Homo sapiens: one gene and its partners. The protein of the gene in region 1 purifies or fractionates together with the protein of each later gene. This does not show direct contact. Each region holds a gene or a part of one and is shown on either strand. Other genes may lie near its edges.

Region 1 (4,105 bases):
AGCATGCAAACAAGCACGCAGACGAGCACACAAACAAGCACACAGATGAGCATGCAAACAAGCACGCAGATGAGCATGCAGATGAGCACACAGACGAGCACGCAGATGAGCACACAGACGAGCACGCAGACGAGCACGCAAACGAGCACGCAGATGAGCTCGCAAACGAGCACGCAGATGACCACGCAAACGAGCAAGTAGATGAGCATGCAAACGAGCATGCAGATCAGTAGGCAAACAAGCATACAAATGAGCATGCAGATAAGCATGCAAATGCACTCACAGGTGCCCTTGCACGTGGACAAGGGAGTCAGGAGTGTGGGGCCGTCCCTCCCGTGGCTGCTTCGGGTGTGTGTGTGTGTGTGCATGTGTGTGGGGCTTGGGGTGTGTGTGTGTGAGCGTCTGGGCAGGTACATGTGTGAAGTGTTACAGTGGGGGAGGTTTGTCCTCTCACACACATTCCCGTGTGACCTCCTGCGGACCCCACACATCCCTTAGGGCCCTAGTCCCTTCCTTGCTGGGGACTCCACATCCCAGCCTCGGTCGTCCAGGCTGACCCAGGACCCGGCTGCAGTGGGTGCCTGTCCAGGAGACGTCTCCATCCCCACATCCCTGCCCCTGCCCCACTCTTCGCTGTGGTCCTGGTCCATCTGCCGGGCCCCCTGCCCTCGAAGCGGGGCCCCCATGACCGCGTGTGCCTCCTGCCGCCACAGGTCATCGCCAACCACCACATGCCGTCCATCTCCTTCGCGTCAGGCGGAGACACGGTGAGGCCAGGGATGGGGGTGGACCTGCAGCCCTGCCGCCCCCCTCCGGCCGCGAGACCCTCTCATCCTTCCCCAGAGCCCGCCTAACGTACCCTGTGCCCACATCCACTGCCCCATCTCTCTGCATTGCTGGGGTGGGCAGCTGGGAATCCCGGTGGGGGGCCCAGGCAGGTCCAGCTGGCCCCTCCCCGCCCCCAGGACATGACGGATTACGTGGCCTACGTCGCCAAGGACCCCATCAACCAGAGAGGTGAGGCCCCCGGGGAGGCCGGTGGGGGTCCTGTGGCTGGGGGGCACGGCCGTGTGGCTCGGAGGCTGCATGACCAACGTGCCCGCAGCCTGCCACATCCTGGAGTGCTGTGAGGGCCTGGCACAGAGCATCATCAGCACCGTGGGCCAAGCTTTCGAGCTGCGCTTCAAGCAGTACCTGCACAGCCCGCCCAAGGTGGCGCTGCCCCCAGAAAGGTAACCAGAGCTGCCTCCCCCGTGCCCTGGGGACACCCCCAGTGACCTGCCCAGGTGCAGAGCCTGCTCCACCTCCTGCAGGCCTCAGCCTCCGTCCTGCCCTTGTCCCTCCCTCCCTGTCCCGTGAGAATATGGCTCAGCCAGAGGATCCTGTTTCCTCGGCTGTTAACACCCGAGTAAACGCATCCCCGCCTGCCCCCCAGGATTGGGGAGGACTAAGCAAGCTGACTCCCCGGTGTGCCTGAGGCTGTCAGCCCTGCTGCTACAACCAATATCCCTCCTCCAGACGCGCGGCCGGCTCCCGCAATGGGCAGAAAACGGCCTCCGTCTCACCGCAGAACATGTGTAAAGGGGGGGACGTGTCTGTGTGCTGGTAACACGTTTTTTATAGACATTGAAGTGTGAATGCCACGTGTTGCAAAATATGATTCTCTAGATGTTTTCTCAAACACTTAACTTTGATAATTTAAAGATTGAAAGCCCATTCTTAGCTCGTGGGCCACACAGATCTAGGCGGTGAGCTGGATTTGGCCCTGGGCTGGGGTTTGCCAGCTGGCCTTGGAGAAGGAGCTATTTAAGTCTCTATTCATCATTAGAAAGTCAGCTTCCTCCAATGGTGGGAGGGCAGGTGCAGGTGCATGAGCTCCCAGCCTGCTGGTCACGAGGGAGGCGGCATCGCACGCCTGCTCACACTCACCCCTTTGTGCACGGGGACAGCGTGCTTGATGCACGTTGCTCAGCACGCTCCGAAGCTGAGACGGGCTCCTCGCCTGCCTCCAGAGCTGCCTCTGCCTTCCGTAGGCTGCTTCATAATTTATCCCAGCAGCGACTGTGGGCCAGGTGGGGTGCACCCCTCTGGCTCTCGGGGCCGTGCTTGCTGAGGAGCACCTGCAGGATCAATTCCTGCCAGTGCCATCGGGGCCAGAGGGCGGGGGCGCTTTGATCCCAGAGAGTTGCCACCCTGACCGGTGATGTCCTGGTTCTGGGTATAAACTTGGCTCATGCCCTCTGCTGCCGGGCGGGGCCGGAGGTGGGCAGAAAGGAGTGGAGACTGGGTTTGCCAACGACCTGCCTTTTGTGCTACAGCTCGGAAATGTGTGCAACATTCCATTTTATAGATGAGGAAGTAGTGGGCCTGGTCACTGGCTCTAGAAGCGTTTCCCGGTAGGAACCCTCAGTGACAGGTGGGGGGCTGGGATTCGAACTCAGATATTTCCTGCTCCCCCAGAAGCTCAAGCCGTAAGGCTTTAGCCCCCTTGGGCCCTGCCTGTGCCATGGCCGTTGTTGTCTGTCCCCCAGGCTGGCAGGGCCGGAGGAGTCGGCCTGGGGGGACGAGGAGGACTCTTTGGAGCACAATTACTACAACAGCATCCCGGGGAAGGAGCCGCCGCTGGGCGGGCTAGTGGACTCCAGGCTGGCCCTGACACAGCCCTGCGCCCTCACGGCCCTCGACCAGGTCAGCCTCTGCCCTCGGGGGGATGGGGACAGGGATGCCCCAGCTGCTGGTTCCCTGGACCTACCTCCAGCTCTTCTTTCTGCTCCTGTTCTCCTCGATCCTAGAGGAGGGTCTCTCACTCAGACTCACTCACTCACTCACTCATGATTTCACTTACTCACAGACTCACAATCTCACTCACAATCTCACAGGCTCACGATCTCACTCATGATTTCACTCACTCACAGACTCACGATCTCACTCACTTGCTCACTATCTCACAGACTCATGATCTCACTCAGTCTCACTCACTATCTCACTCACAGACTCACGATCTCACTCAGACTCATCATCTCACTCACGATCTCATGATCTCACTCACTCATGATCTCACTCACAGACTCATGATCTCAGTCACGATCTCACTCACTCATGATCTCACTCACTCATGATCTCACTCATGATCTCACTCACTCATGATCTCACTCAGGATCTCACTCACTCACTCAATCACAGGCTCACAATGGGGCGCCGTGTATCTGCCCGGCCTCCTCTATCTCTCACTCACTATCTCACTCACGATGAAGCGCCATCTGCCCGGCCTCCTCTAACTCTCACTCACGATCTCACTCACGATGAAGCGCCATCTATCTGCCCGGCCTCCTCTAACTCTCACTCACGATCTCACTCACGATGAAGCGCCATCTATCTGCCCGGCCTCCTCTATCTCTCACTCACGATCTCACTCACGATGAAGCGCCATCTATCTGCCCGGCCTCCTCTATCTCTCACTCACGATCTCACTCACGATGAAGCGCCATCTATCTGCCCCGCCTCCTCTATCTCTCACTCACGATCTCACTCACGATGAAGCGCCATCTATCTGCCCCGCCTCCTCTAACTCTCACTCACGATCTCACTCACGATGAAGCGCCATCTATCTGCCCGGCCTCCTCTAACTCTCACTCACGATCTCACTCACGATGAAGCGCCATCTATCTGCCCGGCCTCCTCTAACTCTCACTCACGATCTCACTCACGATGAAGCGCCATCTATCTGCCCGGCCTCCTCTATCTCTCACTCACTATCTCACTCACGATGAAGCGCCATCTATCTGCCCGGCCTCCTCTATCTCTCACTCACTATCTCACTCACGATGAAGCGCCATCTGCCCGGCCTCCTCTAACTCTCACTCACGATCTCACTCACGATGAAGCGCCATCTATCTGCCCGGCCTCCTCTATCTCTCACTCACGATCTCACTCACGATGAAGCGCCATCTGCCCGGCCTCCTCTAACTCTCACTCACGATCTCACTCACGATGAAGCGCCATCTATCTGCCCGGCCTCCTCTAACTCTCACTCACGATCTCACTCACGATGAAGCGCCATCTATCTGCCCCGCCTCCTCTATCTCTCACTCACGATCTCACTCAC
Region 2 (4,646 bases), on another chromosome or scaffold:
TTCATTTGTAAAATGATGACCCAAAGAGAGTGTATCACAAAAATTTAATATGAATACCAAGTAGTTATTCCTGAGCCTGGCATCAATTAAGTGTTCAGTAAATGCTAGCAGCTGTTCATGGTTTTTGCATGTGAATAGTAAGGGTTGGCAAACTTTTTCCGTAAAGGGCCAGTTGGCAAATATTTTAGGTTTTATGGACCATACAGTCTTTGTCACATCCTCTTAATACTACCTTGGAACATGAAAGCAGCCACAGGCAATTTGTAAACTAATGAGTGAGCTGATGTCCTAGCTTTCTATTGCTGCCACCGCAAATTACTAAAACTTAGTGAGTTACACGACACACATCTATTATCTTACAGTTCTATAGGTCAGAAGTCTGATGAGGCTCTTCCAGGCTAAAATTATCGTGTTGTCGGGGCTCTTTCTGGAGGTTCTAGAGGAGGATCTATTCTCTTGCTAGTTTGGTTGTTGGCAGAATTTAGTTCTTCATGGTTACAGGACTGAAGTCTTTATTTTTTTGCTGCTGTCAGCTGAAGGCGATCCTCAACTTTGAGAGATTTCCCATATTCCTTGGCTCATGAAACCTTCCCCAACTGAAAGCCAGTAACAATGGTTGGTTGAGTCCCTCTCACACTTTGAATCTCTCTTTCTTCTTACATTGCTTCTGTCTGACAAGATATTATCCAGGATCATGTCTCCCATCTCCAAGTTCATAAATTTAATTTCATCTGGAAAGCCCTTTTTTTCATATAAGGTAGTATATTCACGTGTTCCAGGGATTAGGGCATTCACATTTTAGGAGATCTGTTATTCTGCCTACAAAGGCTGTGTTCTGATAAATTTTATAAAAAACAAGCGGTGGACTGTATTTAGCCCTAGGGTCTAGGTTTGTGTTATGCAACCACATGTAATATAAATGTATATATTTATCAGCCTGTATTGAACACAATAGAATATTTTTTCTGCAGTATGCCATTCAATACTTTTTCTGACAATAGAGGAGTTCTCATGTTCCCTCCACAACTTTTGCCATGTCCATATACCAACCAGGTGCTATTTATTTCAATACTACTGAGTTATTTCCTTTAAATAACATAAGCCAAATAGCATATGTTGGCCTCGTCCTGAGTAATAATTTCCTTAATGAAATTAAGAGTTAGTAAGTCTAGTTATGTTCTCCTAATAGACATTACAATGAATTCAAAACTATTGAAGTGATCAAAAGTTAGCCTAAGAAGGCCCTAATTTTTTTTTTTTTTTTTTTTTTTGAGACAGTGTCTCACACTGTCACCTGGGCTGGAGTGCAATGGTGCAATCTCAGCTCACTGCAACCTCCGCCTCCTGGGTTCATGCGATTCTTCTGCCTCAGCCTCCCGAGTAGCTGGGATTACAGGCAGGTGCACACCACCACACCCAGCTAATTTTTTGTATTTTTAGTAGAGATGGGGTTTCATTATGTTGGCCAGACTGGTCTTGAACTCCTGACCTCGTGATCCACCCGCCTCGGCCTCCCAAAGTGCTGGGATTGCAAGTGTGAGCCACCACCCCTGGTGGTGGAAATAAGACATTTGTAACATATGGCTTTATAGGCTGACATGTCGGTGTTTAAACCCGGATTCTATCATTGTGTTCTTTTAGCAGCACCTTCTAGGATTTTCCTAGAAAAAAATGCTGTTTGCCAATGGCAAGTTAAGGAGCATTTGCTTATTGGTAGATTATTTAGAGAAACATGCAATTACAGATGAAATTTCTGAACAAGGCCCAAATGAATACATTATTATTCCTCCACCAAGTGTCTGATGCTATTATGAAATTTGTCAAATTCTGAGCATCCCAACCAACAGAACTGAATCAAGTAGGGTAAGGAAAGTATTCTAGCTGCATTGTGACACCCCAGCCTTCAGCAAAGAGCATGCATGTTTATCACAGTAAGCCACACCTTTTAAGTTTTAGCATTTTTTCTTTGGCTAATAATTTGTCTTGTTTAAATACACTTCTTTGATATACAATTAGGGTATACCTTTTTTTTTTTTTTTTTTTTTTTTTTTTTTTTTTTTTTTTTTTTACCAAGACCAAAACAGCCATTTCAACTTTTCTGCAAGAATGGTGCTTATGGCTTCTACGTTACCGGAAAGCAAACTTCAAACACCACACCATACAACAGCTTATAAAGAATATTTAGGCCCAGGTGTTGATACTTTTTCTTCTGCAAAATTGTTCCAGAAGCTGTACTGTCTTTCTAGATGGTGGTATTTGCTAACATCATATCCAACTCAGGGAAGCGGACTGAGTGCTGGGATCCAAGGCATTCTACAGGGTTCACTGCTGGTTTACACTTCACCTGTGTCAGCACCATCTTCAGGTGCTTAGAATGGCCTGGGAGCCTGTTCTGTCTTGCATCTTCCATGACATGAAAGGGAGGCTGGCACTTGTCAGTCAGGTAGAGGTTACAAACCGTTTCAGGCCCTGCCTACCACATTCACTGTTTGAATCTTTAATTCCCAAGAATAAGTTTACATTTCACAATGAATGACCTACAACAGCTAAATTTTCTGGGGCTGGGAGTAATACTGACAATCCATTTACTGTAGCTCTGCTTAATGTACTACTTAGGAAAATGTCCCTGCTTAATAATGTAAGCCAAGCTAAATGATGGTTAAAGTTATCAGGCCTCCCATGAAATTGCGTTCTTCCTGCATTGAAATAAAAACATTATTGGGAAACTAGAGAACACCTCTATTTTTAAAAGGACTTTAACGAAGTCAAACAACTTATAAGACTAGTGATTCACTGGGGCATTATTTTGTTAGAGGACCTTAAAATTGTTTATTTTTTAAATGTGATTCCTTTATGGCATTAGGGTAAAGATGAAGCAATAATTTTTAAATTGTGTATGTGCATATGAAGCACAGACATGCATGTGTGTGTGTGTCTGTGTGTGTGTGTCCGTGTATGTGTGTGTGGGTTCTAATGGTAATTTGCCTCAGTCATTTTTTTAATATTTGCAGTACTTGATTTAGGATCTGTGGTGCAGGGCAATGTTTCAAAGTTTAGTCACAGCTTAAAAACATTCAGTGTGACTTTAATATTATAAAATGATTTCCCATGCCATAATTTTTCTGTCTATTAAATGGGACAAGTGTAAAGCATGCAAAAGTTAGAGATCTGTTATATAACATTTGTTTTGTGATTTGAACTCCTAGGAAAAATATGATTTCATAAATGTAAAATGCACAGAAATGCATGCAATACTTATAAGACTTAAAAATTGTGTTTACAGATGGTTTATTTGTGCATATTTTTACTACTGCTTTTCCTAAATGCATACTGTATATAATTCTGTGTATTTGATAAATATTTCTTCCTACATTATATTTTTAGAATATTTCAGAAATATACATTTATGTCTTTATATTGTAATAAATATGTACATATCTAGGTATATGCTTTCTCTCTGCTGTGAAATTATTTTTAGAATTATAAATTCACGTCTTGTCAGATTTCATCTGTATACCTTCAAATTCTCTGAAAGTAAAAATAAAAGTTTTTAAATATTTGAGAGACTTCCCCTCTTTATTGCCTTTGTTACAACAAAATAAAAACAAATTCAAACTTTATTTTACTGGTAGAAAATTTTCTCATATGGCCTACAAGCCCTATATCACAAAATTTACCCTTAGATAAATCTAGACTTTAATAGCAGTTTTACTGAAAGTTTATTCTTGTAATTGCAAAATAACTTTCCATTTTGTTGCTGCTTAAATATTTCCCAAGTCCAGTTACTTCTATCTCTACCCCCTTTCCAATCACACAATCAGTCACACACTGGTTGTGTGATTGAAAGGGGGGTAGAACGGCCTGGGAGCCTGTTCTCTCTTGTATCTTTCATGACATGAAAGGGAGGCTGGCACTTGGCAGTCAGGTAGAGGTTACGAACCATTTCAGCCCCTGCCTACCACATTCACTGTTTGAATACTTAATTCCCAAGAATAAGTTTACATTTCACAATGAAAGACCTACAACAGCCAAATTTTCCGTGGCTGGGAGCAATACTGACAATCTCTTGCCTGGACCACTAATATCTCTAGTCTCTGCAGGAGCTCCCAGCTGATCTCAGTCCTCTCTTGCTTCCTTCCCCTCTGTTCTTTGCACACTTGCCTTACTGGTCTTTTCAAACCCAAACCTGATCATGCCTCATCCTGCCTCTGGGGCTTCCCATTGCTCTTACGTAAAGATCCGATTCTGCAATCCACACTTCCAGGCCCTATCAACTGAGGTCCCACTGATCCCCCAGGCCTCAGCCCACATCATCCACCCCCAGAGGCCTCTGGAACCAGGCCACAGTGGCTTCTGCCAGTTTCTGCTGTTCCTTAAATGCTAGCAAGAGGGTTCTTCCCACCGTCTCCCTCCCGGCATGCTCTTTCTCTGCCTGTTCTTCTCCTACGCACCATCTACGTCCACCCAGCTTTCATTTCCTGAAGGAAATCTTCCTTGATGACTTAGATCCCACAGGGGCTGTCCCCAGCACCGGGATTCATTAGGGTTGTGATTCCCAAGGAGACCTGTGCGACTGTGGGGACAGCAGGATGAGGAAGGGAAAGAAGCCAAACAAGCGTGTGGTTTTGAGTGAAGTTCCAGCCTCA
Region 3 (4,682 bases), on another chromosome or scaffold:
GTTCATATTCGATCACCGAAATGAGAGTTCTTAATTGCTAATTGACAAACGCGTTAGCAATTTCAGTTAGGGAGTCATCTCCCTTGATTGTGTTCTTTTCCTGTCAATTTTCATAGACCTAATTTGCAAACTCAATCGGGGACTAAAATTTCCCACTGAAAATGTTAAACATTTTAGATAACTGTGAAGATAGTTTATTTTTATTCCTTGCCAATCTGGGAATATGCCTTTTTTGTGTGTTTGTGTGTTTTTTTAAGTGCTGTATTAATAATACTTTCTGAAAGAAAAGGACACTTACCCCAAAACTTCAATCTGAAATGTCTTACATTAAGAATATCTTGAATGTTGTGTATATATTTTAAAAAGCACTTTGCAAAATAGTTTGTACATTTATTTCCTAATTTATACATGATTTTTGGTGTTAATATATTTAATGATTAATAACAGAATGTTTATTTAATGTGCTGTCCATTTTTATGTAATATTATGGGGAAAGTGATGCCAGCAGTTCCTTTTCATTATTCTATCTTCTGTCATATGAATGTTGAGCAAAGCTTAGGCCAACATGAATTGTTTGTGAAGTGTGGTTGATGGTGCTTTGTTTTTTTCTGACTACTTCTATGGAAGGCCAGTGAAGAAGCAAAGGAAGACATGAAAATTGACGCTCATTCTTCTTCCTATTGTTCCCTGACATCCAGCAAATTGTGAATTTGAAAAATGATGGCCAGTTTTCAGAAGTGCTGACAAATTCATATTGGTATGCAAAAGCTCATCACCCATTAAGGTTTGTTGTTGAATCAACAGTACTCAGCATATTAAAACAGTACATCAGAACTCATGCCAACAGTCTTTATGATGGGATTAAGGTGGACAAGATCTCCTAAGATCTGTGAATGGGATTAAGGTGGACAAGATCTCCTAAGATCTGAAAAGAAACCTTAATACGCTCATATGGTTGGAGTGTTAAGTGAACCTCTGATTTTGTCAGGGTTTTTCTACGTGTAGGCGTGAATAGGGGGCACCCCTTCAAAACTGTACAAAGAAGACGACTGTTTTCCATTTCCATTTAAACATTTTTAGCCACTTCATTTCTATTTATTGAACAGGTCAAATTTGTCTTGTTATTTGTGAGTACAGTACATTTAAAAAACATCCTTATCGGTTATTTTTTTTTCAGTCGGAGTTTGACGTATAAATTGTTTATGCTTTTGGTGTAATCTCTTAATAAACTGGTTCTTCAAAAATCATCCTATAAAGTGAGTTTTCATGAAGTTAACGGGATTTTGGTGTGATGTGTTTTGCAAATACTTATTACCGAGACCAGGTAGATCGTCACCTCGGCTCCCGGGCAGAGTTCGCGTGCGTCCGCACCGGATTCCCCGCGGCGGCAAGGCGAAGCCAGGGTAAGGGCGGTGGGGACGGCGCCCCGGGGCTGCCCTGCGGTCCCCACTGCCTGCTCTGCGTTGCCCCGTAGCCTCCTCGGGCAACGGCGGTGTCCTCGTCAGACCCGGGAGGTTCCGCAAACGCCGGAGGGGTCAGAGAAGCTGGGGGACCTTGGGCACCGGGTGGAACGGGCGGGGCGGCTGTCCTTGTGCTCGGGCAGCGAGGGCGCCGGCGAGAAGCGCGGCTGCAGCTGAGCGCTCCGCATCCCTCCTGCCGTTGCTCCTGCTTCCGCTACCAGGGACAAGGTCGCCTCTCGGTCCGTCGGCGTGTTTTCTGCACCTGCGCACTGGGCAAGCCTTGGGCTTCCGGAGCCAAAAGGCCCCGGAAGTGGTCGGCCGCTTGCGACGCTCCGGAAGTGACGTGCTTTCCCGAGCCGGTGAGTGCGGGAGCGGGGAGCGGGGAGCGTGGGCCTGGGGGGTGGTCGCGGCCCGGGCGCAAGGAGGGGCCTCGGCTTGGGCCGCGGGGTACCGGGGCGCTGGGAGCGGGAGAGGCCCCGGCCTAGGAGCTGAGAGGCCTGGAGGGCTGCCGGGCTGCGAACCCCGGCGGGACCGAGCGCTGCGGCCCTGGAGTAGCGAGCGCTCGGGCGGTGGGGAGCGGCGCCTTGCTCCCCGGTCCTGCCCCACTCTCTCCGCAGAACCGCGTTTTGGGGTCAGAAGTCTTGTCAGCCACCCCGGTGGTGCTCTGTCACGGGATGGGTGCCGTGTGTGAGTTCCGAGTCAAGTTGTTAGGAATTTGCCTTGATCCAGCGCTCTAAGTATTAAACATTTTAAAGTGATTATTGGCAGTATACAGTTGCACAAAACAACATAAATATATACACATTTGGATGATAAAACAACAATAAAGTTTTGTATTGTAAACGCGCCTCAGGGAGACGCATTTCCAGATAATTCACTGTCCGTGGCTGGCTTCTGCCCAGTGAGAGCGGGTTACCCGTTCTATTCCCATTTACGTTCTCGTAGCTGTGGATACCGAGGAACGGCGTTCACACAGACCTGTAGGTGGGAATTAGAGGGGTTGTTGGGCAGTGTCACTAGAGAAATACCTTTCTTTTGTAAAGGGGAGGACCCATTATAAAAGGGGGACGGGAAAGGAGAATTCAAATTGTTTTAAACGCAGGTTCGTCCTCAGGCAGTTCTGTTTTAGCAGAGAGAACGTAGCGAAACTTGGGCAGAAAATGGATTCCTTTGAAATTATCCTGGCCTTAGTCCCTTGGGAAGTCTGTGTAGGCGAACCTCAGTGAGAAGATTCCTGCCGTAAAATGCAGGTGTCAGCAGCATGCCAGGGAGGCCAGAGGATACTATGTGACTTTGGGCAAGTGACTGAACCTCTGTGAGTCTCAGCCTCCACTGCTTTAGATGGGCATAAAAAATGTAAAGTCAAGAATCAGGTTTCCGCTGGGCGCGGTGGCTCACGCCTGTAATCCCAGAACTTTGGGAGGCCAAGGCGGGCAGATCACGAGGTCAGGAGTTAAAGACCAGCCTGGCCAACATGGTGAAACCCCATCTCTACTAAAAATACAAAAAAGTAGCCGGGCGTGGTGGCAGGCGCCTGTAATCCCAGCTACTGGGGAGGCTGAGGCAGGAGAATCGCTTGAACCTGGGAGGTGGAGGTTGCAGTGAGCCGAGACCGCACCACTCTGCTCCAGCCTAGGCAACAGAGCGAGACTCTGTCTCAAAAACATACCCAAAAAAAAAAAATCAGGTTTCATGCTCACAGGAGGATTTGAGGAGGGTTTATAAAGGGACCGTTTGCAAAGGCAGAGTGCAGGTTAATGACAGTTGGTCCTTTAGCCTGGAACTGGTGGCAGTGGAGTTTCTACTCCTGGACTCCAAAGGATCAGGGAAGGCAGCAGTGATCGGGACAGGGAGAAGAGTCACTGGGGAGGGCTTCTTGGACTGGAGGTGTGAGCCTCAGTCTGAGTGGGCAGGGAGGTCCATGTCCCGGCCTCCTGCTCCTGCCTCCAGTCTCTGGTAGAGGGCCAGGTCCCAGTAGGTTTTCCTATGGGGCAAGCTCAGGCTCCTGACACACAGCACAGGGCAGGGTGGAAAGCTGGTCTGGAAAAGCAAATGGAAGATAGCTCGGCATGCAGTATTACCCCTCGCAGGGTATTATCGTTAGGAATACATTTAAAAGTGGATATATTGGTTGGGTGTGGTGGCTCGCGCCTGTAATCCCAGCACTTTGGGGGGCCGAGGCAGGTGGATTTCCTGAAGTCGGGAGTTCAAGACCAGCCTGGCCAACACGGTGAAACCCCGTCTCTATTAAAAATACAAAAATGAGCTGGGTGTGGTGGTGGGTGCATGTAATCCCAGGTACTCGGGAGGCTGAGGCGAGTGGATCACTTGAACCCATGAGGCGGAGGTTACAGTGAGCCAAGATCCCACCATTGCTCTCCAACCTGGGCTACAAGAGTGAAACTCTGCCTCAAATAAAAAAGAAAAAAAATGGCCAGGGCGTGGTGGCTGATGCTTGTAATCCCAGCAATTTGGGAGGCTGAGGTGGGCGGATCACGAGATCAGGAGTTCAAGACCAGCCTGGCCAACATGGTGAAACCCTGTCTCTACTAAAAATACAAAAATTAGCTGGGCGTGGTGGCATGCAGCTGTAATCCCAGCTACTCGGGAGGTTGAGGCAGGAGAATCCCTTGAACCCGGGAGGCAGAGGTTGCAGTGAGCTGAGATCATGCCACTGCACTCCAGCCTGGGCGACAGAGCGAGACTGTCTCCAAAAAAAATAAAAATAAAAAATAAAAAATAAAATATATACACATACATATATATACATGTATATGTATGTACACAAATTAGCTGAGCGTGGTGATGGGTGCCTGTAATCCCAGCTTCTTGGAACGCTGAAGCACAAGAATTGCTTGAACCCAGGAGGCGAAGGTTGCAGTGAGGTGAGATCATGCTATTGCACTCCAGCCTGGGAGTGAGACAGAGTGAGACTCTTGTCTCAAAAAAAAACCTTTCTGTGATGAGGGCAGTGTTCTAATATGTGCTGTCCCATATGTACCCACTCGTGACATGTGGCTGTGTGCACTTAGATGTTACCTCAGGGACTGAGTTTTTACATTTCAGTTAATTTTAGCCAAATGGCCACATTTGGCCAGTGGGGACTGTGCTGGACAGGTCAAGGACAGCCTTGTTGGAAGGAAAATAAAGACACCAAAGAGCAGCGTGAAAACAGTGGGATTTGTTCATCCGGCAGGGGAGAGAGCACAGCACTCAGCGGGC
Region 4 (4,105 bases), on another chromosome or scaffold:
CAGCGCACCAGCATGGCACATGTATACATATGTAACAAACCTGCACATTGTGCACATGTACCCTAAAACTTAAAGTATAATAATAATTAATAAAATAAAATAAAAAAATCACTTCCAGAAGCAGCTATATCTTTTTCTGTGAAAGAAAGGTGAGCATAGAAAAGAACCTTGAATTTATGAAGGCTATGAAAACTGGGCACATAATCAGAGTGGGATGATTCTCCAAGCTTTCATAATACAATATTATACTTCCACAGTTTTCTCCCCAACTTTCTAGAATGTTAATAAGTGACAGAATTGTCAAGACTAGCATGTTCAACTGTCATTTTCACCTTATGGATTAAATTCTGGAACCAAAAAAATCTACTGTTATTTGTGAGTAACTAAAGAAGGTATTGGAAGGAGTTTTGAAAGACAAGAATGAACATTTCAAATAGCTAACAGGTCTTTCTTTATTTCAACTAACAGAGAAACCATTTATGGGAGGATGTGGTATTTCACTTCAGACTTCTCCAGAGGTGACACTGCGTACACCAAGCTAGCTCTGGATCGGCACACTGACACTACCTATTTTCAAGAGCCCTGTGGGTAGGTGGATTAGACTTTTACAGTGTAAAGTCTTTATATGTGATAGTCTTGAGTGGTTTCTTAATTATTTTCCATTCTGTTCGAACCAAGATCATATCTGCTCCTGCAGATTTGTATGACTTTCTCTTCCCCTAGAAACATGATCATTTTGAAATACCTTAACTCAGTTTTTAGATTCTGTATTAGGCCATTCTTGCATTGCTATAAATAAATACCTGAGACTGGGTAATTTATAAAAAAAAAAAAGAGAGATTTAATTGTCTCATGGTTCTGCAGGCTATACAGAAAGCATAGCAGCATCTTCTTCTGGGGAGGCCTCAGGGAGCTTCCAATCATGGTGGAAGGTGAGCGGGGAGCAAACAGTTCACATGGCAAAAACAGGAGCAAGTGAGAGAGAGTCAGGGAGGAGGTGCCACACACTTTTAAACAGCTAGCTGTCACAGGAACTCACTCACTATCTGAAGACAGCACCAAGCCATCAGTTATCCACCTCCATGAGCTAAACACTTCCACCAGGCCCTACCTCCAGCACTGGAGATTACAATTCAACATGAGATTTTGGTGGGGATAAATATCCAAACTATATCAGACTCCTAGGAATAAAATATTTTTAAGTTCTCAAAAGAAGACATTTATGCAGCCAAAAAACACATGAGAAAATGCTCATCATTACTGGCCATCAGAGAAATGCAAATCAAAACCACAATGAGATACCATCTCACACCAGTTAGAATGGCAATCATTAAAAAGTCAGGAAACAACAGGTGCTGGAGAGGATGTGAAGAAATAGGAACACTTTTACACTGTTGGTGGGACTGTAAACTAGTTCAACCATTGTGGAAGTCAGTGTGGCGATTCCTCAGGGATCTAGAACTAGAAATACCATTTGACCCAGCCATCCCATTACTGGGTATATACCCAAAGGATTATAAATCATGCTGCTATAAAGACACATGCACACGTATGTTTACTGTGGCACTATTCACAATAGCAAAGACTTGGAACCAACCCAAATGTCCAACAACGATAGACTGGATAAAGAAAATGTGGCACATATACACCATGGAATACTATGCAGCCATAAAAAATGATGAGTTCATGTCCTTTGTAGGGACATGGATGGAGCTGGAAACCATCATTCTCAGCAAACTATCACAAGAACAACAAACCAAACACCGCATGTTCTCACTCATAGGTGGGAATTGAACAATGAGAACACATGGACACAGGAAGGGGAACATCACACTCTGGGGACTGTTGTGGGGTGGGGGGAGGGGGGAGGGATAGCATCGGGAGATATACCTAATGCTAGATGATGAGTTAGTGGGTGCAGCACACCAGCATGGCACATGTATACATATGTAACAAACCTGCACATTGTGCACATGTACCCTAAAACTTAAAGTATAATAAAATAAAATAAAATAAAATAAAATAAAAAGAAAACTCATCTTACTATATAAATGGAGTCCTAATTTTGTTAATTATTAAAATGTAATTTTACATTTTTCAAAGTAATTATAAATTATCCCCCAAAAAAGTATTGCCTAACCATTAGTTTTGGAATTTGTACAGATTTCTTGCATTTAGTTATTAACATATTGCAAAAGGGTCGTCATGCAAACACAGCTGCTTTGAGTATGGCATTAAGAAGAATTTGAATCTGATTTACAAGAAGTTGGAGAGGAGGAATGATGGAAGAATAACTTCTTCACACGGAATAAGATGCTTTTGAACCAAAGATGATACATACTATACTCAATTTTCCTACCATTTGCTCTTCAGTAGAGGCACCTCTGTGGTTATTCCGTGTTCTTGATCTTGCTTCTGCATTTAGATGGTGAGCCTGAGACACAAAGATATGAGTAAAATGAGTGCACATAGATTTATGGAGACTATATGAGAGGATGATAATATGCAATTGCTCATGGTTACACTGATTTCCTTTAAGGGTTTATAACTTAAGAATGTTTGATTCAGGGAAGGAAGAACAAAGCAGCTTTTAGATATCCTGATAAATGTTATCAATATATGGAGAGATCAACAACCCTGCATCCTCATTCTAGTGGATACAGAAGGAAAAAAGAGGAAATGAGATAAGAAGCAGCTGTACAGGGGTTGAGGTTCAAATACTGACTAGCTCTTCCCTTTATGACCAACACCAGAGATAAACAACTGTTTGTGGCTTTAGTTTAATTGTTTGTAATCAATGGCAAGGACCAAGTAAATTAGCAGTATGGTAATAGCACTTAAGAGTTCAGGCTATGGCATCAACCAGACCCAGATTTGCATTCCAGCCTCAACATGTATTAGATTTGTGATCTTGGACAAGTAACTTAATTTCTCTGTACTTCAGTTTCCTCATCTGTAAAATGGGACTAGTAATATAAAACCTATCCATTAGCATTGCTAAGGAATTAAATTATATGATCATATTGCCTGACACAAACTAACCTATCCATTAGCATTGCTAAGGAATTAAATTATATGATCATACTGCCTGACACAAACTAAGTGTTCAATAAATATTAGCTATAATTTTCATCATTTTATTCATTTTAATCACTATCTTCATTGTTATATGCTTTACTCTCTCTAAAGCTATCTTTGCTCTGGATCTCATCCTTTCCAGCTTCCTTGGGGATTTCTCTCTCCTCTATCTTCAGCCTTTCCATACCTATTGACTCCTTCTTATCAGCCTCCCATATCTTAATTCTCTATTTTTGTACTTCCTTGGACTCTATCTCCGTTTAGCTACAGCCATGTTTTTTTCTTCCACTTCATGGCTAAGATTATTAAAAGAATAATAGCTACATTCAATATATTTTCATTCTCACTTCCCATTTACTCCTCAAACCCATAGGCATCTAGTTTTCCCAACCCACCCCTCACCGCAATTAAAGTTACTCTCTCTAACGTCACCAGCAACTAATTGTCATATCCAGTGTGTACTGTCATCTTACTTGATCCCTGAGACATACCATTAACCACTACTAAATTTCTTAAATATTCCTTCTTTCCTAGTTTTCTTCCTATATATCTGACCATTTTTCCTCAGCCTCCTTTGCTGGCTTCTTTTGTCTATTTCCTAAATATTATTCTTCCTCAAGGTTTTCTCCTTATCCCTCTTTTCTTACTTGAAATGATCTCTCCAAACGACCTCTTCCATGCTCTTGGCTTTAGCTATCACTTGTAACAAAATCCACCTCTCTTCCTTAAACATCTTTAACTGGTAACTAAATAACCCTGACCTAGAAGTTTCACAGAAATTTCAATATGGCCAGGCTTACCTTTCTCTTTTTAATTGTATTTATATTATATTAGATTGTCCTTGATTTTACTCCATATTTTTGTTTATTTCTTATTTTAATTTGCTTTTTACTTTTTCTTAGTTTTGCATATTTGATTAAATTACTATTAATTTTATTTTCCCTCATAAGTTTGAAAATTCTACCTTAGTTTTCCAGTCAATTAATAGTCACCTTACCTTTCCCTGTTAACATATTCAGAAACTGTA
Region 5 (4,647 bases), on another chromosome or scaffold:
TGACTTTGTTCTGCTGCAGCCTGATAAACTGGGACCACTGTGTGGTTAGTAATGCACTTGCCATTTGGTGACACAGACTGAAGGCTATCCTACACCTGGGCCTTACCTCTTCCTCTACTGGCATCCTAATGGCACTCTGACAGCATCCAGGGTGACTACAGGGCCCATTGGAAATGGATCATCATTCTCTCTTCTAGTGTCTATCTTTATCATAACCTGATGTCCCAAACTTGTGACAAGTTCTTTTGGCAACTGAAGGACCAAGAAGGGAAACGGTGATGAGAGAGACTGCTCATTGTAACTTTCAAAACCCCGTCTTTGGGGAAGAATCATCTAGGGTGACATTCCTTGAAGTAAATCCCAGGAGAATCTAGGCCAAAGAGATGAGCCAAGGTTAGTGAGACAATTTATTTTTATTGCCTAAACTGCAGAGCATTCTCTACACAGCGTAAAGGAGAAGTGGGGCAGCTGCAGGACATGTAGAGAAACCAAACTGGGAAATCTTACAAGGAGTTGAAAAGATTAATGTCCCAACCTGATGAGATTACGGCCTTGAGACAATAAGGTGGAGCAACAGAACAATGGGAAAGAGGACTGGGAGAGGAATCTAAGAACCAGATGGCTTCAGCTCTCTAGAGGAGCTGAGCCTATTCACAGTGCCTAACCTGGAAGCCTGTGAGGAACAGGCCTCAGGCCCTTGCCACGACCTACTTAGGCTACAATTTCCTTTAAGGCAGCCCCTAGCTCTGGGAAGGAATACTGGTAGCCAGTGGCCAGTGTTCGCTGTGGGATCACCTTCTGGCCCTCCAGCAGCATGATGGCACGCTGTCGCCCAAAGACAGCTTGCACCACAGCGCTGGGGAGAGGGATGAAGGCTCGGCGGCCCAGGGCAGCACCCAAGGTCTGGGCAAACTCAGCATTAGTGGCGGAGGATGGAGCCACTCCATTCAGGACCCCGTGCACGTGGTTTGCTTCAAGGGCATGGGTCAGGATTCCTGCCAGGTCCCCGATGTGTATCCAGGGGAAGAATTGGTGGCCTGAGCCGATGGGGCCCCCCAGGCCCAGGCGAAAGGGCAGCAGCATGTGGCCCATGGCACCACCCCCACGGCCCAGCACAACCCCTAGAGCAGGAAAGAGGGAAGGTACAGGGGTCCTCTCAGCCTTGAAGGAGCCCACTGCTCCTCCTGGTTTCTGTTTCCCCTTCCTCACTCTCCCCATGCTGACTTGGCTCTGTAACAGAAGTGAGCAGTATGGCTGTCTTTAAGACCTCACACCTTCTCATCTGCAGGTTGGCTAGAAGTGGTGGCATCCTCTCACTCTGTAATTGTAATCTCAGCTCTCCTAATCCCATCACTTCCCCAGCCCAGAGAAGACATTCCAACCCTGTCTGATACCCAGGCCCGTTTCTCACCTGAGCGCACCACCACCTGGCGTGTAGAATCTCCAGGAAGCCTGGCTGCAGCTTCCCATTTGGTTACGAGGTTGGAGAAAAAGTCAAAGTCCCCTCCTGGGCTGTCTTCATCATACTCCGCAGTCAGACTGGGCTGGTAGTAAGCTGCCGGTGGAACACAATCATTTGCCCTGGGTGTCCTTGGTCCTGCCTGGCTCTCTGTAGTGGAGGCTCCCCTTGGCCTCACCTTCTCTGGCCCTTAGGATCTCCCCATTTGGAGACAGAGCCATTTGGATATTTTCCCCTTGAACTTCTCCATGACCTGAAGCGTTCCTTCCCTGGAGGAACTCTGGTTGCAGGGCTAAACTTAGAGGCTGCTAGAGTGTAGTGGTTAAGAACAGGAACTTGGGTACCAGGCGCCTGAATTTTAATCAGCTCCCTCATTTATTAACTCTCTGACTTGATGCAAGTTACTTAACCTCTCTGTATAGAATTTTCACATCTTTAAAATGGGAATAATAGTACCTACCTCATAGGGTTGTTGTAAGGAATAAATGATAATAAGCATAAAACACTTCAAATAGTGGCTGGTGTGTATAATTGTTTGCAATTACTTGGTCCCAAAGGTGACCAGGAACTCTGTTCCTAAAGAACTATGGTGTGAGAAGTAAGGGACTTTGGGATAGGTGGACTTTTCCCTGGCATTGAGTGATGCCACTCCCCACTGTTTTTTCAGGGTCTCAATTTCTTAGTGAAAGTACACAAAGGTTAGGAGAAACATGCATGGATCAAGGGCCTAGGAAGTCATTTTGCCTGGAAAAGACCAGTGCTCTGGTGTGTGCATAGCTACAGAGGTCTGAGTTACCCCGTTCCCCTGGCGAATATAAGGGGCTGGTGATTTGGGGGGCGTACCTACACCTGTGACTAAGACCCAGGCCTTGGGGGGTTGTGGGGCTTTGGTGATGGCTTTAGCCAGCAATTGGGTGGTCTCTAGGCGGCTGCCGATTACCTCTTTTTGGAAGGTTTCATTCCATCTGCAGGAGAAACATGGGAAATAAAAAGCCACTAAATACATAAGTGCACATATCCCTCTCTCTGTCTTTTCCTGGGAGCTATTTCATACCAATTTCTTGTAAAGCCCTGAATTTCGGCTTAAGAGAAACAGTCAACGTCTCCTGTAGAGGGAAAGGGCATTCATTTCCTGGGCATCCTGAGTTATACGTGAGGACTTAAGCCAATTGGCTGACTGGGTGGAGGAGCAGGTGGGGGTGGAGGAGTGGAGCAGAATGAGTAGTCTGGGATATCGGTTTAGTTCGGAATCTGGGAGCTCCATTACCCATAGCTCACAGGTTCTCATCAGTGGGGCACTGTCCTCCCTGTGCTCTAGTGGGTATCAGCTTTAGGGCCCGGGCTGACCTTCGGAGAGGGTTGAGGATGTTCTCTCCGGCCAGGTTGACGGCGGCATCGCAGCTCGGCAGCCCCGATGCAGCGAGCTCATCCTGTCGGAGAAAGCACACAGTGCCCCTGCCCCGCCCTGCGCCGCCCAACTCTGCCCTCCCACCCGCTTCCAGAGGATGGACTTACCCACGTGATCCGGCCGGGCCCGGGCTTTCGGGAGACCAACGTCACTTCGTGGCCTCTGGCATTCAGCAGCTGGGTTAGGGCTGTCCCAATGAAGCCTGTCCCGCCACCTGATCGGAAAATACAAATTGTTTATATTCCCGTGGAGTTGGGGTGGGGGCGCCTTCCGTCCCCGCTGTGGCACCCTCTTCCGGCGCCATCCCATCTGACACCAGGCTTCTCCCCACTTATCCCCCTCCTCGCGATGCAGAGGTGACACAGGTCACAGGGATTAGGGAGATTCGGCTTCTCGGGCTAGGAGGCCAAGGCCAGGTTGCCTGTGCACTAGACAGTGCCCTCCCGGAAGCGGATTCCCAGTCCTCAATCTCCGACTAAGCCCGCCCAGCACTCTCCCTTTCTGCCCTCCCTCACCCACAAGCACACGCATAGCGACTAGGACCTAACGCGCCTGCGTAAAGTTTAGAGTTTACCTCACCTCAGACGCGACTACGACCTCTCTGCGCATGCCCCTTTCGGGAAGCGCGTTCCAATCGAGGTCGCAATCCTGTGCGTGACCCTTCTCGGCGACCCGGAAAAACTTGTAAATATAGGCTGGGTGTTTCAATAGCAAGCGAGGTGGGAGGGATTAGACCGATGGACCCGGAAAGGGCGGAGGAGGGAAGGCTTTAGTGTAGAAAACCAACCAAACCAAACCCAAACCAACAAAACCCTTCACCTAAAACCCGAAGCTACCCAGACCTCAGAATTTTGGATGTCTATTAAGTTGGCGGGTCAGTAATGCAAGAGAACCCTTCCACCGGTAATCTGGATTTCTTTCCACTCGGCCAGTTTTTTCTTCTCTCTCTTTCCGCTGGAGCCTTTCTATCAACATTTAAACATTCCAAAGATCCCCCTATATTAAAATAAGCCTTCTCCAGACCTGTTTTTCCTCCAGCTAATATTCTTTTTTTTTTTTGCCTTCATAGCCAAACTTCCCACAAGTGTGGTTTCCATTTTCTACTTCTTACTTCACTCCTATAGGGTTTGTGCCTTTATCATTCATTTCCTCACTCTCCAAGAACATAAGTTTCCCATGTGTCACCAAATCTAATCCCTAGTTTTCAGTTAGTTTTCTTGACCTCTCAGTATCAATGGGCACCTGCTGATTCCTTCCTCCCTTTGAAAATGTTTGGCTTCAGTGAAAGACATTCTCTTCTCGGCTTTCTCGTACCTTTTTTCAGTCTCTGATGCTTGCTCCACCTCTGCTAAGTTCTTAAAATATTGGTATTCCTCAGAGCTGGATCCTAGGACCTTCTCTTTCCAATCTGCACTTTACCCTAGGCATCTATGCCTTGAATTCAGTTACCAGGCTTTAACAGAAGACATCCCAAATCTCCTATGCAACTCGGATCTCTCCTCTGAGCTCCTAACCCCTATAAAAACTTTTCACTACACATCTCTTCTTGGACGTCTGAAACCCTGTTGATTTTAAATACTGAATCTCTCCCAGATTTATCTAAGAGGGGTCTTTGAAAAGTTCATGGAAAATGTGTATTATGCTAAAAAATACATAGGTTTCCAATTTTTTTTTTTTTTTTTTTTTTTTTTTTTTTTTTTTTTGAGACGGAGTCTCGCTCTGTCGCCCAGGCTGGAGTGCAGTGGCGGGATCTCGGCTCACTGCAAGCTCCGCCTCCCGG
Region 6 (4,105 bases), on another chromosome or scaffold:
CATGTACTCATCACCTAGCTTCAGCCATTATCAATTCATCTCTAGTCTTATTTCATCCATACGCTGCCCTCCCATCTCAGATATGTAATTTCTTCTGTAATACTTCAGTATGTATCTCTAAGAAATAAGGTCTTATTTTATAAATGTAAGATCAATACCTTTATACCTTTATTATACTTAAGAATTAATAGTTCTTCAACTATATCTTGAATCACTATGGTATCATTTAATACCACATTTACTATAAATTTATTGTTTTGGATATTCTTATTTACTTACTTTTATAGAGACATGGTCTTACCATGTTGCCCAGGCTAGTCTTAAACTCCTAGGCTCAGGCAATCCTCCTGCTTCGGCCTCCCAAAGTGCTGGGATTACACAAGTGAGCCACTGCACCCAGCCTTTCTTACTTATTTTTAAATTGACGAATAACAATTATACATATTTATCATGTATAGCATGTTTTTGAAATATGCATACATTGTAGAATAGCTAAATTGAGCTCATTAACATGAGCATTACCTTATATACTTACAATTTTTGTGGTGAGAACATTTAAAATCTACTCTTAGCAATTTTCAATGATACAACACATTGTTATTATTAACTACAGTCATCATGGAACGTATTCCTCTTATCTAACTGAAATTTTTTCTCCTTTGACCAACATCTCCGTTTTTTTTTTGTTGTTTTTTTTTGTTTTTTTTGAGACGGAGTCTCGCTCTGTCACCCAGGCTGGATAGCAGTGGCACAATCTTGGCTCACTGAAACCTTTGCCTCCCAGGTTCAAGCGATTCTTGTACCTTAGCCTCCCACGTAGCTGGGATTATAGGCACACGCCACCACGCCTGGCTAATTTTTGTATTTTTAGTAGAGATGAGGTTTTCGCTATGTTGGCTAGGCTGGTCTTCAACTCCTGCCCTCAAGTGATCCACCTGCCTTGGCCTCCCAAAGTGTTGAGATTACAGGTGTGAGCCATCACGCCCAGCCAATATTTTTTGATAATTGAACCTTATTTATTATACCACGGGCCAGTGTACTTTTCTGTAATAACTCACTTTGGATTCTCTCCCTTTGCTTTCACACAAGATGTGTCCTTATATTATAGATATCTTAACTAGAATCAAAGGAGAATTCAATTGAGACTGTCATAGAAATGAATTAAACAGGGAAAACAAATTACTTAGCAGAAGTATAACAAACTATAAGAAATAAAGAATTTGAGCTATTGCAAATAAACAAAAATAAAAAACACATGTAAGAAGTTATAATTTATGGCCGGGTATGGTGGCTCACGCCTGTAATCCCAGCACTTTGGGAGGCTGAGGTGGGTGGATTATGAGCTCAGGAGTTCAAGACCAGCCTGACCAACATGGTGAAACCCCACCTCTACTAAAAATACAAAAATTAGCTCGGCGTGGTGGCATGTGCCCATAGTCCCAGCTACTTGGGAGGCTGAGGCAGGAGGATCGCTTGAACCTGGGAGGCGGAGGCTGTAGTGAGCTGAGATTGCACCACTGCACTCCAGCCTGGGCGACAGAGTGAGATTCCGTCTCAAAAAAAAAAAAAAAAAAAAGAAGTCATAATTTGTGACATAATTAATTGAAGTCAAAACTGGTATATCCTAAATGTTGTTTTTTGTTTTTGAGACGGAGTCTTGCTCTGTCGCCCAGGCTGGAGTGCAGTGGCGTGATCTCGGCTCACTGCAAGCTCTGTCTCCAGGGTTCATGACATTCTCCTGCCTCAGCCTCCCAAGTAGCTGGGATTACAGGCACCCGCCACCACGCCTGGCTAATTTTTTTTTTGTACTTTTAGTAGAGACGGGGTTTCACCGTGTTAGCCAGGATGGTCTCGATCTCCTGACCTCATGATTTGCCCACCTCGGCCTCCCAAAGTGCTGGGATTACAGGTGTGAGCCACTGCGCCTGGCCCCTAAGTGTTTTAATTAATTTGAGGTTGGCCTATGAAAACTCTAGCAGACTCTTTCTAGGACCTGGCTAGTTCCAAATACTAACCTAAAACTGAGAAAAATAAAGCATTTGCAACCTTCAATTAGTTGTGACACTCTTTTTCTATGCCACATTCTTACTGTATACTTGACTCTGTTAATATTACATAAAGAACAGGTACCATTACCTGAAAGGTTAGTTTTGATCCTGGAAACCTATTTACAATTGCCAGCTGATGTCCCTGCTGCCACTTAAAAAACAGGCGTTGGGTCTTGGCATCAGGCAGACAGGCCTTGTGGTCCCGCATCAGGTCTCTTGTGATAAACCTGCAGTGATTCCCGGAGTGCAGTGTGGCATACAGAAGGAATGGATCATCCTCCGAGCTGAACCAGGCATAAGAAAGGACACAATCAAGCACAGCTGAAGAGGCAGAGGACAGTGTTTTTCACCGTACTTTTTACTTACTTTCCTTGGAGGTGCCTCTGATTTCTTGACCAACATGATGCTAGTAATACTTAAGAACCACCTCAAAGTCCTTAGCTGGTAAGCAATACTATCTAGAACACAGATGGAAAGCTGAGGGGAACAGAATGCTAATGCCTGGGATTCTCACAGCTCACTGGACTCTTCCACTAGAACGATGAATTCTAACAATGCTCTCTTCACACTTAAAAGTTGCTTCTCTTTGGGCATTTTTCCTATTTGCCTTATCTATCACAGAGCACACCTTTTCCCTCTCTCTTCACCCAAATTCAAGAAACACCCAAAATACTACTAGGGCAGGATGAGACTTTCTTGCAAGCCACCAAATAACTGGCTGCCCCTAAAGCTGAACTGGTATTTCAGAGCAGCTTCTAGACAGTCACCTGGATCAGCACCCCAAAACATCTTCTTTGGTAAGAGCCAGTGACTCAAAGCCTCCAACAGACCATCAACCTTAGCACTTATTATTTTAATAAATGTGCTGTAAAAATGGCAGTAACGACCTTGCTTTAGGAGATTCAGACAGCAACTTGTGATATGCCCTATGCCTTGATTCAAATGACCCTAAATAGGACCATTTAAAGTTTTCTTTATCCTGAAGTATTTCAAGTGAAATGATAAAATGACAAAATTTGCCTTATAACTCTCCAGAAAAAAAAGAAAAAGAAAAAATGTATTCGGTTTATGGAACAAAATTAGCAAAATGATGGTAATTGTTGGAGCCGGGTGACAGTTACATGAGGACTCACTATTCACTATATTATTCTCTCTAGTGTATGTTTGAAAAGCTTCTTTGGCACATTAGTGGAAAACAGATTTAATGTTAAACACTTAAATATTCAAATCCAAAGCGACAAAGAAGGTCAGTGAATTGATCGTTACAACTGAGTTTGGAATTTCAGCTGATGCAATAAATACAGACCCCAAACCAAGCAGTGAGACCACTTTCCAACAGGCTTCTTGGTCATAACACTTCAAATTTATCTAATTTTTCCATATAAGGAAAATAATAATGATCATGACAGCAACTAACATATATGTTTTCCATGTACTTGGTGCTATGCCAAGAGTTTTACATGAGTTATTTACACATATTATCTTATTTAATCCTTAAAACAACCCCATAAAAGTTACACAAGAGATAAGGAAGACAGAGAGAAAGGAAAAACCTTTCCCAGACAGGGAGTGGCAGGGCCATGATCTCAACCTGGGTAAACTAATTCCCAAGCCTACAATCTTACTGTCTACCCAATGTTGCCATTAGGTCTTCTGCTCTTGGAGAAATGGAAGCACCATCTTCCAGCTAAAAAAAGAAGGGATGTGGTTTGGGAACTGGATGAGAGGTTTGCTTCTCCCTTGCTTTATGATTGAGAGCTACTGTACTTTTTAAATAATAAATGATTTGGGGGCCAGGCGAGGTGGCTCATGCCTGTAATCCTAGCACTTTGGGAGGCTGAGGTGGGTGGATCATGAGGTCAGGAGTTCGAGACCAGCCTGGCCAACATGGTGAAACCCCATCTCCACTAAAAATACAAAAATTAGTTGGGCATGGTGGCGGGTGCCTGTAATCCCAACTACTTGGGAGGCTGAGGCAGGAGAATCGCTTGAACCCGGGAGGTGGAGGTTGCCATGAGCAAAGATTGTGCCACTGTACTCCAGCCTGGGTGACCCAG
Region 7 (4,105 bases), on another chromosome or scaffold:
GAGGGAAGGTGAGGGAGAGGGAGGGTAAGGGAGAGGGAAGGAGAGAGAGAGGGAGGGTGAGGGAGAGGGAGGGTGAGGGAGAGGGAGGGTGAGGGGAGATGGAGGGTGAGGGAGAGGGAGGGTGAGGGGAGAGGGAGGGTGAGGGGAGATGGAGGGTGAGGGAGAGGGAGGGTGAGGGAGAGGGAGGGTAGGGGAGAGGGAAGGTGAGGGAGAGGGAGGGGGAGGGTAAGGGGAGAGGGAGGGTGAGGGAGAGGGAGGGTGAGGGAGAGGGAGGGTGAGGGGAGAGGGAGGGTGAGGGAGAGGGAGGGTAGGGGAGAGGGAAGGTGAGGGAGAGGGAGGGGGAGGGTAAGGGGAGAGGGAGGGTGAGGGAGAGGGAGGGTGAGGGAGAGGGAGGGTGAGGGGAGAGGGAGGGTGAGGGAGAGGGAGGGTGAGGGAGAGGGAGGGTGAGGGAGAGGGAGGGTGAGGGTGAGGGGAGAGGGAGGGCGAGGGGAGAGGGAGGGCGAGGGAGAGGGAGGGTAAGGGAGAGGGAGGGTGAAGGGAGAGGGAGAGGGAGGGTGAAGGGAGAGGGAGAGGGAGGCTGAGGGAGAATGAGGGTGAGGGAGAGGGAGGGTGAGGGAGAATGAGGGAGAGGGAGAGGGAGGGTGGGGGAGAGGGAGGGAGAGGGAGGGAGAGGGAGGGAGAGGGACGGTGAGTGGAGCCGTGTCGTCGTCATCCTGTGGCTTCTCCCTGGGTGCCTGTCAGGCTCTGTCTCTTGTGTGACAGCCTGTCCAGCTCCCTGAATCAGCTCAGCTCCTGGAGAGGGGGCCCCTTGCAGACAGGTCAGCATCCATGGGTCCTTTCTGCTTGCCTGACCCCGACCTTCTGGCCCTCCATGAAGTACCTGCAGCCTGATGTCTGGGTTTAGGAGGGCCTCGGACGGCCCCTGTGACCCAGTGCGCTCTGCTCAGGGGTTTCCTGTCAGGCTGCATAATAGCTGCCCTGCGCCGCGGCTCTGGACTGTTGCAGTTCCAGGACAGGCGCAGAGAAGATGCTGGCAGTGGAGTCACAGAGAACAGCCCTGCCACACTGCTCTGGGACTCCGGGCAGTTGGGGCCTCAGCGTCCTCACGTGGAGAACAGAAACTAGGGTGACACCAAAGATGTTTACGAAACCTCCTTCCAGCCTCGTCCTAATCTGATGGACAGGTGGGACCCAAACAGTGACTCCAGGCTGAGGATGCAGGAGGTGCCCTCAACATCACCCCAGCCCTTCCATTCAGGGACCCCTTTGCATAGCTGCCGCCGTGATAACCCATTGCACAGGGAGAAGTCTGCAGACTGGCAACAAAATGTTACCAGTTAGCCCTGGGTGCTGGCCTTTCTTTGATTTTAGCTTACTTTTTTTTTTTTGTCTTCCTGCTTTTAATCTTTAAAACTTTTACAGTGAGCATTCATGTATTACATGTAGTAAAGTCCTTTGAATAAAGTATGTATTGTACTATAAAAAAAATGAACCTGGCCGGGCGCAGTGGCTCAAGTCTGTAATCCCAGCACTTTGGGAGGCTGAGGTGGGCAGATCACTTGAGGTCAGGAGTTCGAGACCAGCCTGGCCAACATGATGAAACCCCATCTCTATTAAAAATACAAAATTAGCCGGGCATGGTGGTGGGTGCCTGTAATCCCAGCTACTCCGGAGGCTGAGGCAGGAGAATCGTTTGAACCTGGGAGGCGGAGGTTGTAGTGAGTCTAGATTGTGCCACTGCACCAAAAAAAAAAAAAAAAAAAAAACCAGAGTTGAACAACAATGGAAGGAAATCGGAAGCAGGGGCCCTCCCAAATATACGGGGCTCGCTTCTGGAAACAGCAAAGTCCACTCCTGGTTTTGATGTTTTCTATTCATCCCTTTTACTCACTCGAAGCCCGAGCCCTGCTGTCCAGGCCAGGTGCTGGGCTGGCTCTGGGGACCAGCGTAGTCCTAGTAGGCCAGCCCTATCTGCCTGGAGCCACGGTTGGGTGTGCATCATGCAGCCCCCCATTCTCCTCCAGGCCGCTGTGGACGCGTCCCCACCCTGCGGTTTCTGGGGCCCCAGCTTTCTCTACTGCTTCTTCCAGCAAAGTACCCATGTTTGGCCTGGAGGCCATCTGGAGGAACGGCCAAGTGGTGGGCCATGTCCGGAGGGCTGACTTTGGGTTCGCCATCGACAAGACCATCGCCTACGGTTACATCCATGACCCCAGCGGTGGGCCGGTGAGTCCCCTTCTCTGGCCCTGCTAAGGCAGATGCCGATCCCTCACCAGCTCCAAACCAGCTCCCTGCACTGCACCCTGAGTGTGCCGGGCATAGGGAGGAGGCACGGGTGTGGTCCAGAAGAGGAGGAGGGAAGAGAAAGGAGGGAGGAGGGAAGAGGGGGAGGAAGGAAGGAGGAGAAGGAGGGGGAAGGAAAAAGGGGAGAGAGGAAGGAGGAGGAGGAGGGAGAGGGAGGAGGGAGGGAGAAGGAGAAGGGGGAGGAAGAGGCCTCAGCAGGTGGAGGACTCCCCAGCTGTGCCTGGGCAGAGCCAAAGCTGCTCTCTGTTTTCTTTCTGGAAGAATCCGACTTTGGTGATTCCAGGCTTTTTTTGGTTAGAAGGAGGTGCCAGCCAGCCAGGCTGATACCTTCCAGCTCCTCACACCAGAGACCCAAACCTCAGGCCACCCACAGCCCACCCTTTGCCTGGGGTGCAGGGGTGGCCCCCAGGGTGACCGACTAGAGACTCAGAGACCCATGTTCCTATCCTCTCTTTCCTCACCCCCGACACCCCTGACCCCAGGCAACCCCACCCCCTCCAGGTGACCCTGACCCCTGGCTGCAGGAGGCAGGAACAGGCTGGAAAGAGCAGGCACTGCCCCCAGGAGCAAGTCCCAGGACAGCTCTGGGTGGCCAGGGGTGGTGGGGCAGGGGGTGGGCAGCCTCCCCAGAAGGGGAAGGGGTGGTCTCTACCTCCACCTCCTTTTCCCATCTTTCTGGCACTGCAAGTAGAGGTGCCGGTGAGGAGGGTCGTGTCTCTCCATGGGAGCCGATCTGACGTTTGGCCTAAGCCCTAAGTGAGGCCGGGAGGTGCTGGCCTGGCTCCAGAGCCTTCCAGCCTGAGCCCCTGATGGACACGTAGAGGGAATTGGGGAGGGAGCGAGCACTTGGGAGAAGCCATGAGGAGGGGTAGGCTGGAGACGGAGCAGCCTTAGCAAGAGCTGCAGAACATGCGCAGGCCCAGCTCGCAGGCCCAATGGGGAGGGGACACCGCCAGGCCTCGGGCAAGACCATGGTCCTGTGGAGCTGTGGGGAAGTGGCAGCCCATGGGGCTGAGTCCGGCGGTGGAGCTGGGAGGCTGGGGACACACTTGATGCCACTAGCCTTTGGATCTGCCTTTTACTTGCTTTGTGACCTTGGATAAGGATCCTCTCTTGGAGCCTCAGTTTCCTCATTTATAAAATGTGGACACTCACCTACCATGCAGGGCTGTCATACAGGCCACTGCACAGAGTGAGTCTTAATATGTGGGGATTGTGATGGCATGGCTCCCACGGTGGGCAGGGCCTCCTGACACAGCCCTGGGGCCATGGTCCTGGGGGCCACAGCCCTGGGGCCCAGCCAAACCGGAGTTTATGGGCTCCATGCCAGGGTGGGCTGGGGAGTGGAGGCTCCTTTGCCATTTCTTCAAAGAACAGTAATGCTCGCCTTTCTCCGGAGTCAGGGATGGGTCCATAACCAACGTGACCAGGGAAGCCGAGGTTCCGAGGTTAAACGGCATCCAGACAGGCAGCCGGGGAACCAGTCGATGCACCCAGAGCGGCCGGTGCACGTCTCCTGCCCCCTCCATCAGGGCTGTCCAGAGCATTTGCACCATGGAAATGGGCAAATGCTACAGTCACACCCACCTCACCCCAGAGCTGGTTGTTAAACATTTTCTAGCACCCAAGTGGGGTAACGGAGGTTTCTGCCTAAGATAGGGAAACCTGCTCATTGATGGGAAAGGCTCCGAGATGGGGAAGGCGTTTCTGCCTCGTAGGTATCTGTTAGCAAGGCCAGATGCCCGCTTTGAGTTGTGCATGCCCGTGGACATCTGAAGGCCACCAGCTCTCCATGCTGCCT

The links.
Region 2: the proteins of SHC2 (region 1) and CYP24A1 purify together in Homo sapiens (affinity purification with mass spectrometry; one large-scale study listed by BioGRID and IntAct). This does not show direct contact.
Region 3: the proteins of SHC2 (region 1) and MTG2 purify together in Homo sapiens (affinity purification with mass spectrometry; one large-scale study listed by BioGRID and IntAct). This does not show direct contact.
Region 4: the proteins of SHC2 (region 1) and TMLHE purify together in Homo sapiens (affinity purification with mass spectrometry; one large-scale study listed by BioGRID and IntAct). This does not show direct contact.
Region 5: the proteins of SHC2 (region 1) and SDR39U1 purify together in Homo sapiens (affinity purification with mass spectrometry; one large-scale study listed by BioGRID and IntAct). This does not show direct contact.
Region 6: the proteins of SHC2 (region 1) and PRORP purify together in Homo sapiens (affinity purification with mass spectrometry; one large-scale study listed by BioGRID and IntAct). This does not show direct contact.
Region 7: the proteins of SHC2 (region 1) and SARDH purify together in Homo sapiens (affinity purification with mass spectrometry; one large-scale study listed by BioGRID and IntAct). This does not show direct contact.

Annotation. Positions count from the first base shown.
Region 1 is NC_000019.10:433,292-437,396, reverse strand, and holds part of SHC2 (SHC-transforming protein 2), read left to right. Parts: intron 1-713; coding exon 714-767; intron 768-965; coding exon 966-1,017; intron 1,018-1,105; coding exon 1,106-1,232; intron 1,233-2,531; coding exon 2,532-2,688; intron 2,689-4,105. UniProt on the Homo sapiens protein: Signaling adapter that couples activated growth factor receptors to signaling pathway in neurons. Involved in the signal transduction pathways of neurotrophin-activated Trk receptors in cortical neurons.
Region 2 is NC_000020.11:54,152,362-54,157,007, reverse strand, and holds the end of CYP24A1 (1,25-dihydroxyvitamin D(3) 24-hydroxylase, mitochondrial isoform 1 precursor), read left to right. Parts: exon of another isoform or gene 1-2,246; 3' UTR 2,247-3,562; downstream 3,563-4,646.
Region 3 is NC_000020.11:62,181,239-62,185,920, forward strand, and holds the start of MTG2 (mitochondrial ribosome-associated GTPase 2), read left to right. Parts: upstream 1-1,789; 5' UTR 1,790-1,819; intron 1,820-4,682. UniProt on the Homo sapiens protein: Plays a role in the regulation of the mitochondrial ribosome assembly and of translational activity. Displays GTPase activity. Involved in the ribosome maturation process.
Region 4 is NC_000023.11:155,508,156-155,512,260, reverse strand, and holds part of TMLHE (trimethyllysine dioxygenase, mitochondrial isoform 1 precursor), read left to right. Parts: intron 1-468; coding exon 469-588; intron 589-2,163; coding exon of another isoform or gene 2,164-2,185; exon of another isoform or gene 2,186-2,423; intron 2,424-4,105. UniProt on the Homo sapiens protein: Converts trimethyllysine (TML) into hydroxytrimethyllysine (HTML).
Region 5 is NC_000014.9:24,439,372-24,444,018, forward strand, and holds SDR39U1 (epimerase family protein SDR39U1), read right to left. Parts: upstream 3,406-4,647; 5' UTR 3,399-3,405; coding exon 3,383-3,398; intron 3,082-3,382; coding exon 2,975-3,081; intron 2,890-2,974; coding exon 2,807-2,889; coding exon of another isoform or gene 2,738-2,806; exon of another isoform or gene 2,731-2,737; coding exon of another isoform or gene 2,727-2,730; intron 2,473-2,726; exon of another isoform or gene 2,425-2,472; coding exon 2,303-2,424; exon of another isoform or gene 1,768-2,302; coding exon of another isoform or gene 1,638-1,767; exon of another isoform or gene 1,556-1,637; coding exon 1,412-1,555; exon of another isoform or gene 1,122-1,411; coding exon 712-1,121; 3' UTR 395-711; downstream 1-394. UniProt on the Homo sapiens protein: Putative NADP-dependent oxidoreductase.
Region 6 is NC_000014.9:35,268,628-35,272,732, reverse strand, and holds part of PRORP (mitochondrial ribonuclease P catalytic subunit isoform 1 precursor), read right to left. Parts: intron 2,333-4,105; coding exon 2,137-2,332; intron 1-2,136.
Region 7 is NC_000009.12:133,664,856-133,668,960, reverse strand, and holds part of SARDH (sarcosine dehydrogenase, mitochondrial precursor), read left to right. Parts: intron 1-2,090; coding exon 2,091-2,226; intron 2,227-4,105. UniProt on the Homo sapiens protein: Catalyzes the last step of the oxidative degradation of choline to glycine. Converts sarcosine into glycine.